Linked DNA regions of Homo sapiens. The protein of the gene in region 2 purifies or fractionates together with the protein of the main gene of each other region. This does not show direct contact. Each region holds a gene or a part of one and is shown on either strand. Other genes may lie near its edges.

Region 1 (3,941 bases), on a different chromosome or scaffold from region 2:
TCAATAAATACTCAACCAGTAAAGATTCTGCTGTGTAGAGTTCAGGGTTTATTAACTTTATCTGTACTTTACAGCATGTTCTGTTTGGGCAGAGCCTTTATAGCAGTTGAGCATATTCAGTAGCCTAGTCAGAGACAATGAGATGAAAACTTGGCCTCTCATGGATACAAAATTATGTGATTTTTTCCCCCCCCAGACCTCATAGTTATTCCTAGGAGTCAAGAAGATGATGCACACAATGTACAAGCAGTAATTGATTCACTGGCCTTGGACTACTTGCAGGTCAGCTTGTCTCACATAACAGGTTGGTATATGTATAACTATCACATAATTATGCATTTTAGTAAAAATAATTGTTAGAACTGTAGACATTGTTTACTTAACCAAATGAGTGAGCTTATGGAGTAGACCAAATTGTAAGATTGAGCTAAGACAATCAACTGATAGAGGTCAGGTCCATACATGAGAACTTTTCCAGGAGAGCTGAACATTGATTTTGCAATTGATCTGGGTCTGAAACGTAAATATCCTAGCTGGTAATTTGAGGTGTGTTTTTTGTTTTTATGTTATGTTGTTTTATTTATTTTTATTTTTTGATTCAGAGTCTCTGTTGCCCAGGCTGGAGTGCAGTGGTGCAATCACAGCTCACTGCAGCCTCAACCTCCCAAGCTCAGGTGATCCTCTCACCTCAGCCTCCCGGGTAGCCGGGGCTACAGGTGTGCACCACCATGCCTGGCTAATTTTTTCTATTTTTTGTAAAGACAAGAGTTTCGCCATTTGCCCAGGCTGGTCTGGAACTCCTGGGCTCAGCTGATCCACCTGGCTCCACTCGTGAAATTGCTGGGATTACAGGCCTGGACCACTGTGCCTGGCCTTCGGGGAACCTGCCCCGATAGTCACGTAGGTTCTTTTCTATTTTATCTAAGCATCGGCAGGTTTGAGAAATAAAGGGACAGAGTACAAAAGAGAGAAATTTTAAAGCTGGGCGTCTGGGGGAGACATCACATGTCTGTAGGTTCCGTGATGCCCCACAAGCTGCAAAAACCAGCAAGTTTTTATTAGGGATTTTCAAAAGGGGAGGGAGTATACGAATAGGTTGTGGGTCACAGACATCAAGTACTTCACAAGGTAATAGAATATCACAAGGCAAATGGAGGCAGGGCGAGATCACAGGACCACCTGACTGGGGTGAAATTAAAATTGCTAATGAAGTTTTGGGCACCATTGTCATTGATAACATCTTATCAGGAGACAGGGTTTTGAGAGCAACCTGTCTGACCAAAATTTATTAGGCGGGAATTTCTTCTTCCTAATAAGCCTGGGAGCGATATGGGAGACTGAGGTCTATTTCAGCCCTACAGTCTACAGACCATAAAAGATGGCCACGCCCGGGGGACCGTCTGTAGACCTGCCCCCAGGCGTGTATTCTCTTTCCCAGGGATGTTCCTTGCTGAGAAAAAGAATTCAGCGATATTTCTCCCATTTGCTTTTGAAAGAAAAGAAATATGGCTCTGTTCCGCCCGGCTCACCAACGGACAGAGTTTAAGGTTATCTGTCTTATTCCCTGAACAATTGCTGTTATCCTGTTCTTTTTTTCAAGGTGCCCAGATTTCATATTGTTCAAACACACATGCTCTACAATTTTGTGCAGTTAACGCAATTATCACGTGGTCCTGAGGCTACATACATCCTCCTCGGTTTACAAGATGACAGGATTAAGAGATTAAAGTGAAGACAGGCCTAGGAAATCACAAGGGTATTGATTGGGGAAGTGATAAGTGTCCATGAAATCTTTACAATTCATGTTCAGAGATTGCAGTAAAGACAGGCATAAGAAGTTATAAAAGTATTAATTTGGGGAACTAATAAATGTCCATGAAATCTTCACAATCCACGTTCTTCTGCCATGGCTTCAGCCGGTCCCTCTGTTTGGGGTCCCTGACTTCTCGCAACACCTGGCCGTATTGTTTTATTTTAAAGCATACTAATGCTACTTGTTTGTGATAGCTAAAAATTAGAAACACCTAAATGTCCATTAGTAGGGATTGGTTAGATAAATCATGATAGCTGCATACAGTGGACTGCTCTGTGGCTGTAAAAGATGACTGAATATGCTCTTTGTGCACAATGTTCCGTGTTGGGAACAATCTCTAGCATATGTGATGCGAGAAAAATGTAGTACAATTATAATGGTAATGTGCAGAGTAGTATGCTAGTGTTTGTAAAAACAAAGGTGTGCAGAAGTATTTGCAGTTGTTTGCAATCGGAAGAACTCTCTAGAAGCATATACAAGAAACTCGTAATACTGATTGCTTCCAACAAAGGGAACCTCAGGGTTGCAGGACAAAGGGACAAGAACTTTCAGTGTATACTTTTTGCACTTGCTGAATTTTGAACCATGTTATCTATTCAGAAGTTTTTTTCTGTAATTAAATCTCCAAAATAAAGTATACTATACTGTATTCTAAAACTAAGCATACCAAATATATTTATAAATCACTGTATTATGTGTATTTCATTTATGTTTAGAAATGAATGATTATTCCAGTAAGTTATTTCAAGCTTATGAATAGAGGGAATATTGACAATGTGAAACTATAATCACAAAAAGAGGATTTATACTGTTGATTTATTCTTTGATAGTTGTAAAAGGAGATAAATGTTAATCAGGATAAGTCCTGATTTACATCTCTTAATTTGATACTGACAAGAACAAATTTTTGCGAAGAGAATAAAATACTCTTCTGTCTTAAGTTTTTTAATGCAGTTCTAGGTGAGTGAATGGGTAAATCAGTTCGGAGATAATTTGAGGGCTACTCCCATAGTTTCCCTCTTTTTTTTGCAATTTGTAATTGCTTTATCACCCAAGTAGGACAAGTTCTGGTATTTGTGCTTGTTAAACATACTATAGCAGGGTTATAAACATACATGTTTGTAAAACTCTTTAATGCAGAGCTGTCTTTGACAGATTACACCCACCCTATGAAAAATTGTAAAACAGTTTCTCCTGCAGCATGAAGCACTGCATTCTGGCTGGCAGTCTTAGTTGCTAGGTTGTCAGTATACTCCCCATCCTAGAAACTGAAAAGTTTTGAGGATGCTCTTGGGATATACTTAGGTATTTTTAAGCCGGAAAAACACGTCCAAAACCAAGATTTCTGGTTCATTGTTTTAAACGAAAAAACTCAAACGTTGTCGTTACTAGTAGTAGTATAAAACGTCAAATTTCTGGTTTAGGTTTGTTTTGCATCATGGCTGAGGTTACGAATGGCTAGATTCTCCCAAATGTCAAATTTCTACACTGCTTTTCCCATATTGGTGTGAACTCATGAGAATGCCAGGCATGATCTCCCAAAGGACAATCAGAGTGTCACAAGGGTTAAGTACTATCTATACCTGAGGTTGATTTGGAGTCCATTTCAGGTGACATTAAATATGTCAAGTTTCCATGCTTTTTGCCAACCCATTTCTATTCAACATTTCAACCTAATCATTTATATTAAAAATCTGTTACGGAGTAGGTACTGTGCTAGGGACTGTGCTATGATCTATGAGTGTAAGTTATGAATATGAAGTGGATATGGTAAGAGATGTAGCTGGAGACGCTGAAGATGGAGTGAGATTTAAAAAGGTTTTATATGCAGGGCTTATATTTCAGAAAGGGAGCCAGGGAAAGGATTTTAATCAGAAAAATGGTATGATCTATACAAAATGAGGAGTTAACAAATATGGGGGGTTATGGTGGAGAATTCAGGAATTTCTGATGAAAGTATCCCAACAAGTTTATTGTTTTTTTTTGTTGTTTTGATGTTACTCTGCTGCTATAATCTTCTGAACAAACCACCATTTAGAATAGGATACCACAATCTGAAAGTGTTCTCTCCTGCCACTTTTTCCCACCAATCTGGTAAAGTTCTGTTTAGCTGCAATATATTTTGGTA
Region 2 (5,794 bases):
ATAGGTTCCCATGTTTACCTGCCTATTTTCACCTGGCTCAAAGCAGCCAAGAAAAGACGTCTCCTGGGTCAAAACTGATTCTATTCTGCCCCAGCACTGGATGGCTGTTCTAAGTGAATGATGGTAGTGCCTGAGAGCTCAGTCCCGGGTGAGCTCAGCCCCATCTGCCTCTTACCTGCCTTATACTCAGAGGCATATTTTCCTCCACATTCCCCCCTCAGAAGATCTACCGTCAAAGAAGCCTTTAAAACTGCAGAGATTCTTCCCCATGCAAATAGGAAAGGGCATCCAGCCCCTTCTTCCCAGGGTGGGGCAAGGACTGACCACATAGGGACCAAGCAGAGGCCAGAATCCTAGAGCAGTGCTTCTCACAGCTGAGCTGCATCAGAGTCACCTGGAGGGCTGGTTAGGACATAGACCGCCAGCCCCAGACCCATAGTTTCTGATTCAGTAGGTCTGAGGAGGGCCTGAGAGTTCCCAGGGGTTGCTGGTACTGCCAGCTGGGCACCTTTGAGAACCTCTATCTTAGATGATTTTCCCAAACTTCAAGTATTGTCTTTATTTTTAAAAGAGAGAAAGGGGAGGGTGTGTGCCTGGTGTTGCTAGGCAACCATTAGCCAAAGGTGATGAGAGCCGGGTTCTGGGAAGGACAGCAGGCTGTGCGGGGTGACCTCAGACTGGACAGAAGGCTGTGACTAACTTTATTGGCATCTCTCTAGAGACATAAGTAGGCTTCACCGCCAATTTGCCTAAGGTGTTCAGCAGGACTATTGAAGGCCTGGCAGCTGCCGGAGGAGAGCCTGTCTCCCAGCCGGGCCTTCTGCTCCTTGCTCCAGAGGGCTTTGAGCTTGCGGTAGTACACCTTGCAGCTGAAGCCCTCCCTGAAGCCCCTCTTGATGTGGCTCTTGAGGAAGTCCAGGGTGGGGTACATGCGGCAGCAGGCCACGCACTTGTAGCCATTCTGCTGTGCTGGGTGCCACCTGGAAGCCATTAGGATGTCCTGGGATGTGATGGAGTCCAGGCCATGCCTGGATTTCTTGGTGGCTTCTCGAGGGCAAGTGTTCTCTGGGGAGGAAGAGGACGAACAGATGTTCTCAGCCATGTCCTCAGAAAGGCAGTTGTCCCACTTGCCCTCATCCTGCTGCACCTCTGGGAAGTCATAGGCCTCCAGCTGGCTCTCTTTGTCTGCACACACGAAGTAGCTGTAGGGGGAGAACCAGGGCCGGTAGATAGTGCAGTTCCGCCTCAGCTTCTCTCCGTGCTGGGTATCCCCCAAGCTGCAGTCTGCAAAGGAAAGGACCAGGTCTGAGTCTCTGGCAGGGAGCAGTGGAGCCAAGGATGCTGGAGCAGAAAGGTAAGAAGGCAAACATCAGGCATGACCTCGGTTACCTCCACCCCACCACGATTGCAGTTCTGAGAGCAGACGCAAGACAGTGGTAAGAGCAGCCGAGGGCATTCCTTCTCACTGCATTCTTTTTCTAGGGGTACAAAGGGCCGTTGGATCTTGGGGCAGGAGAGGCTGCTTTTAGTTGGTAAGCCTTGGTATTTGTCGAGGCCTTCCCCTCCTGGAGACACCATGTCCACTGACTCCTCTAAGGATAGACACAGACAGGTGACCCAGCGGATAGCCAAACCGGCGGCCTCCCACAGTCCCTCTTTTCGCCACCCATGGCTGTGACCCTTTTTTCAGCCTCACTGCTCATCTTGATCCCTCCACGGCCCACTCAGCCAGAAACTGCTCTTGCACACCAGTTTCAGAGACAGGAGAGGGGAGGCAAGGCGAGAGCCCCAGGCCTGTGGGTGTCTACCAAAGGAAGAAGGGCCAGATAGGAGGCTGCAGGTGACAAGACCGCGCATGGGGGTCCAGCTTCCAGACACCTCTGCTTCCTTAGGGAAGCAGCCCCTTTTCATCCTTAGCCTCTCACACATTCCCGCCCAGAGTCAGAGAAGTCCTCACCTGGTGAGAGCGCTGTGTTCTGTATCCCTTGCCTGACAATGATGCTTTGGTACTGGGGTGGCAGGGCCTGAGCTGGGCTGGATGCCTCAGTGGGTACTGCTGTCTTTGCAATGTCTGGGTTATAGAAGAAACACTGGTGAGCTGAGCAAGGTTGGGATTCCACTTTCTGGGACTCCCCCAGGCATACCTAGGGGCTCAACCTCTGTACTTCAAGGCATCTCAACGCTGAAACAGAACAGTGACCTCTCAAACTCAGCCAGGCAGAGCTATTCTGGATGACATCCTGGGGAATTCTGAATGGGGCCATTTCATTCAGGCCTCAGAAAGATCCTCTGGAAAGTGGGATTTATGATGTAGCCCAGATGACACCTCTCCGCCTGGCCTGCCCCTCACCTAACCCTCCTGCATCTCATCACGCGGATGGCTTCACTCCGCATTGCCAGTCTCCTGAGCATCCTGGGACCCAGAGTCACAGGCTGCAGAGCAATGTTCCATGCCCGCTTTGAGGATTGTCCAGTTGAAACATCTCATACCCACAGTCAGGGTTCCCGTGGGCCATCACTGCACGGCACACCCTGGAGTGCTAACACTTGGACAAAAAGCTGACCTGCCTCAAATCCCAGAATAGCAGCTGTGTTCAGTTTGGGGGACAAATTTATAAATGTCATATATGTAGACAAATGGATGCTTAGGAGGCCTACTCCACTGAGCAGTACTTCTCCATTTTACTGTGCATAGAGATCCCCTAGGGATCTTGTTAATAACACAGATGCTGATTCAGTGGATCTGGGGTGGGAACCTGAGATTCTGCATTTCTAACAAGCTCCCAGACGATGCAGACGTTGCAAGTCTAAGGACCGTATTTTGAACAGGGAGTCCTCAGGGTGTCCAACTTTATTCCATGATGTGCTCATCAGTTTACGCTGCTGCTTAGGCTTCTCTGATTTGGCTAACTCCAAATCCTCTCCAAACTTGTCAAAACAGAGCTAAAACTAGTTTCTACTCTATGTAGACATACTGCCACCTTGAGATTTCATGCACAATCTAGGGGGAAAAACTTGATGATAAATGGAGACTGAGGCAGGAGAATCACTTGAACCCAGGAGGCAGAGGTTGCAGTGAGCCGAGATCACATCATTGCACTCCAGCCTGAGCGACAGGAGTGAAACTCTGTCTCAAAAAAAAAAAAAAAGTTTTCCCCTTTCTTCCCTTACCAAAAATCAATACACAGCAGTAACTACTTACCACAAATGCAGCATTTTGAAAAATTATTTTCTCCCCATGCGTAATTTGACTTTCTCACTAAATCATGGTCCTGTAACATGATCTGGTAGGGTACTCAATTAAAAGCTTCAAAAAAAACCACATCTTTGTGGCCCTAGTGGCACCAAAGTTTACCTGGCAGGCTGGTGGCACGAGAGAACATAATGTCGGGAAAAGCACTCAGGGCGGAGGAAGAGATTGGAGGTCCAGAGATGCTGAGGAGTGAGAAGTTCTCCATATTCTGACCACTGCGGGGGTACAGAGATCACACGCCTGCTCTGGAGAGGCTGGCTGGTTTGTCCAGAGGATAAACATTCTGAGCACAGTTGATGTCACAAGGCACATGATTCCACTACCAACTAGGTTACCCTTTGGAAGATGAATGGAGTCTACTGAAAGCAAGATTAAAATGTGTAAAGATTGTATTTGACTTGCCATTGCCCAGTGGCAGGCCCTGATTGACAATACCCAGAGAGAAGAATGTAGTAGAGATACTGTAGTGATGCTGTCTATTTGTCCCCTTTTATCTTTGTTATCATCAGTTTTCTGTGTTGACACTGTCTACCCCCAGCCCTCCAGCCCTGGAAACCTCTGTCCTGTCTGAATAATCTCCTTCCTTTTCTTCTCCTTTATCAGCCTAATCTCTGTCAGCAAATATTTTTATTGTTTTGTTTTAGTTTGTTTTTTGAGGTGTATATATTTTTCACATTTTCTTTGGAAATTCAAATTTGTAAAAGTTGCAGAAATTAGGCTGGGTGCAGTGGCTCAGGCCTATAATCCCAGCACTTTGGGAGGCCAAGGCGGGTGGATCATTTGAGGTCAGGAGTTCAAGACCAGCTAGACAAACATGGTGAAACCCCATCTCTATTCAAAATATAAAATTTAGCCATGCGTGGTGGTGGGTGCCTGTAATCCCAGCTACTTGGGAGGCTGAAGCAGGAGAGTCGCTTGAACCTGGGAGACAGAGGCTGCAGTGAGCTGAGATAGCGCCACTGCACTGCAGCCTGGGTGACAGAGCGAGACTCCATCTTAAAAGCTGCAAAAAATAAAATCAATACAAAGAACACCCTTATGCCCTGTATCCAGATTTTCCTATTAACATTTTACCCCATTTGCTGTATCCGTCCCCTTCCTCCTGCCCCCTGCCCCATGTGTATGTGTATATACTTAATTTTTTCTGTGAACTATTTGAAGGTAAGTTATAAACACTATGTCCTTTTATACCTAAGTACTTCAATGTGTATTTCCTAAGAATAGGGGCCAAATATTGTTTTCAGTGGTTGGTGCTCTTTTTAGCAAGTGACTAAAGCACAAATGGGTGGCTTACTCAATACTATTTTGCTCATTGCTTAAGTCAGTTTGATGGGGAGACTCTGGGACTCCAGAGAGGCAAGGTTGCCTCTTCGTTTCGCTTGTCCTATAACAACCTTGTGCACTAACGAGGTGTGGAATAAGGTGAAAGATGATTGTGACACTTGGAAGATAAGCTGAAGACACCCCTTTCTAGATTATCACAACATGTCAACTAGATACAGAGCAGGGCTGCAGATCTAGATGGCAGGTATGTTTATGCTGCATGGGGAGCTATGGCCGCTCTGGAAATAGTGATGGGCTTGTTTTGCAGTGCTGTCGAGCATGTGTGAGTGAGGTGTGAGTTAGCTTCTGCACGTGAGAGCCCAGAGTTGTCTTCCTGTGTGTATTTATTCACGGTACTGAAACATTCGAAGGACAATGGGAGAACATGATTCCCCTCGTGTTCCTCCCAGATAGCCTGGTTTGGAACATTAGCATGTATTGGAAAGTAAGTTGAAGCCACATACTTTGGCAGTTTGGGGGGTATCAGCAATTTCATTTGGTCCATTATGGTGTAGAGAAAGCTCATGAGTCTGGGCATCAGCTTATGTGACTTCTAACCCTGCTCCGCCATGAGCTACCTGTGTGATATTGGGCAAATCTCTCTGCTACTTGGTTTACCCATGTTATTAGTTTAGACTCTAAACTGGAATGGATGAACATCTTCCTGGCTAAAACCCAGTGACTGACATGTGGACAGTAGCATACTTGTGAGTGATGCACACAGGACCCCGAGGACTTGGAATTGCATTCTGTCTTGACCCATCACATTTCTCCGACTGCCAACTTCAGACTCTCCCACTGCAACCTCAGACTTAAAGTAAAGGGAGCTTAAAATACTGGGGGGAAATATGGGAGGCAGAATCTCTCAGTGCCTGTGTAGAGTTTTTAAAATGCGACCCGGTTTTGGTTTAGTCACTGAAAAGTTTGTGGGAGCCTGGCGGTTCCAGGGTGCACACCACTCCTCGTAGCAGGTCCCCTGTCTTGTGTGCTGTGTCCCCCCGAGGTATGCTGGTGCTGGTGGCCCAGGCAGGAGGTGACACTCTCAAAGTGACTGGTCACTACGTAAAATGTGTCTTTCTTTTGTTTGTTTCCCACCTGCTTTCCGAGCCCCTTTCTCGGACAGGTAAGATATCCTGTTTTTTTGTGGATGACTTACATCCCCAGATGCCCTCCTCTGCTTGGGTGTGTGCATGTTGGGGGGTACTGTTGGGAGGGCCA

The links.
Region 1: the proteins of SPATA46 (region 2) and CEP95 purify together in Homo sapiens (affinity purification with mass spectrometry; 2 studies listed by BioGRID and IntAct, with this or other methods). This does not show direct contact.

What each region holds. Positions count from the first base shown.
Region 1 is NC_000017.11:64,509,977-64,513,917, forward strand, and holds part of CEP95 (centrosomal protein of 95 kDa), read left to right. Parts: intron 1-196; coding exon 197-304; intron 305-3,941.
Region 2 is NC_000001.11:162,373,333-162,379,126, forward strand, and holds the start of SPATA46 (spermatogenesis-associated protein 46), read right to left. Parts: upstream 3,523-5,794; 5' UTR 3,459-3,522; coding exon 3,356-3,458; intron 2,072-3,355; coding exon 1,958-2,071; intron 1,285-1,957; coding exon 716-1,284; 3' UTR 1-715. UniProt on the Homo sapiens protein: Plays a role in spermiogenesis and fertilization.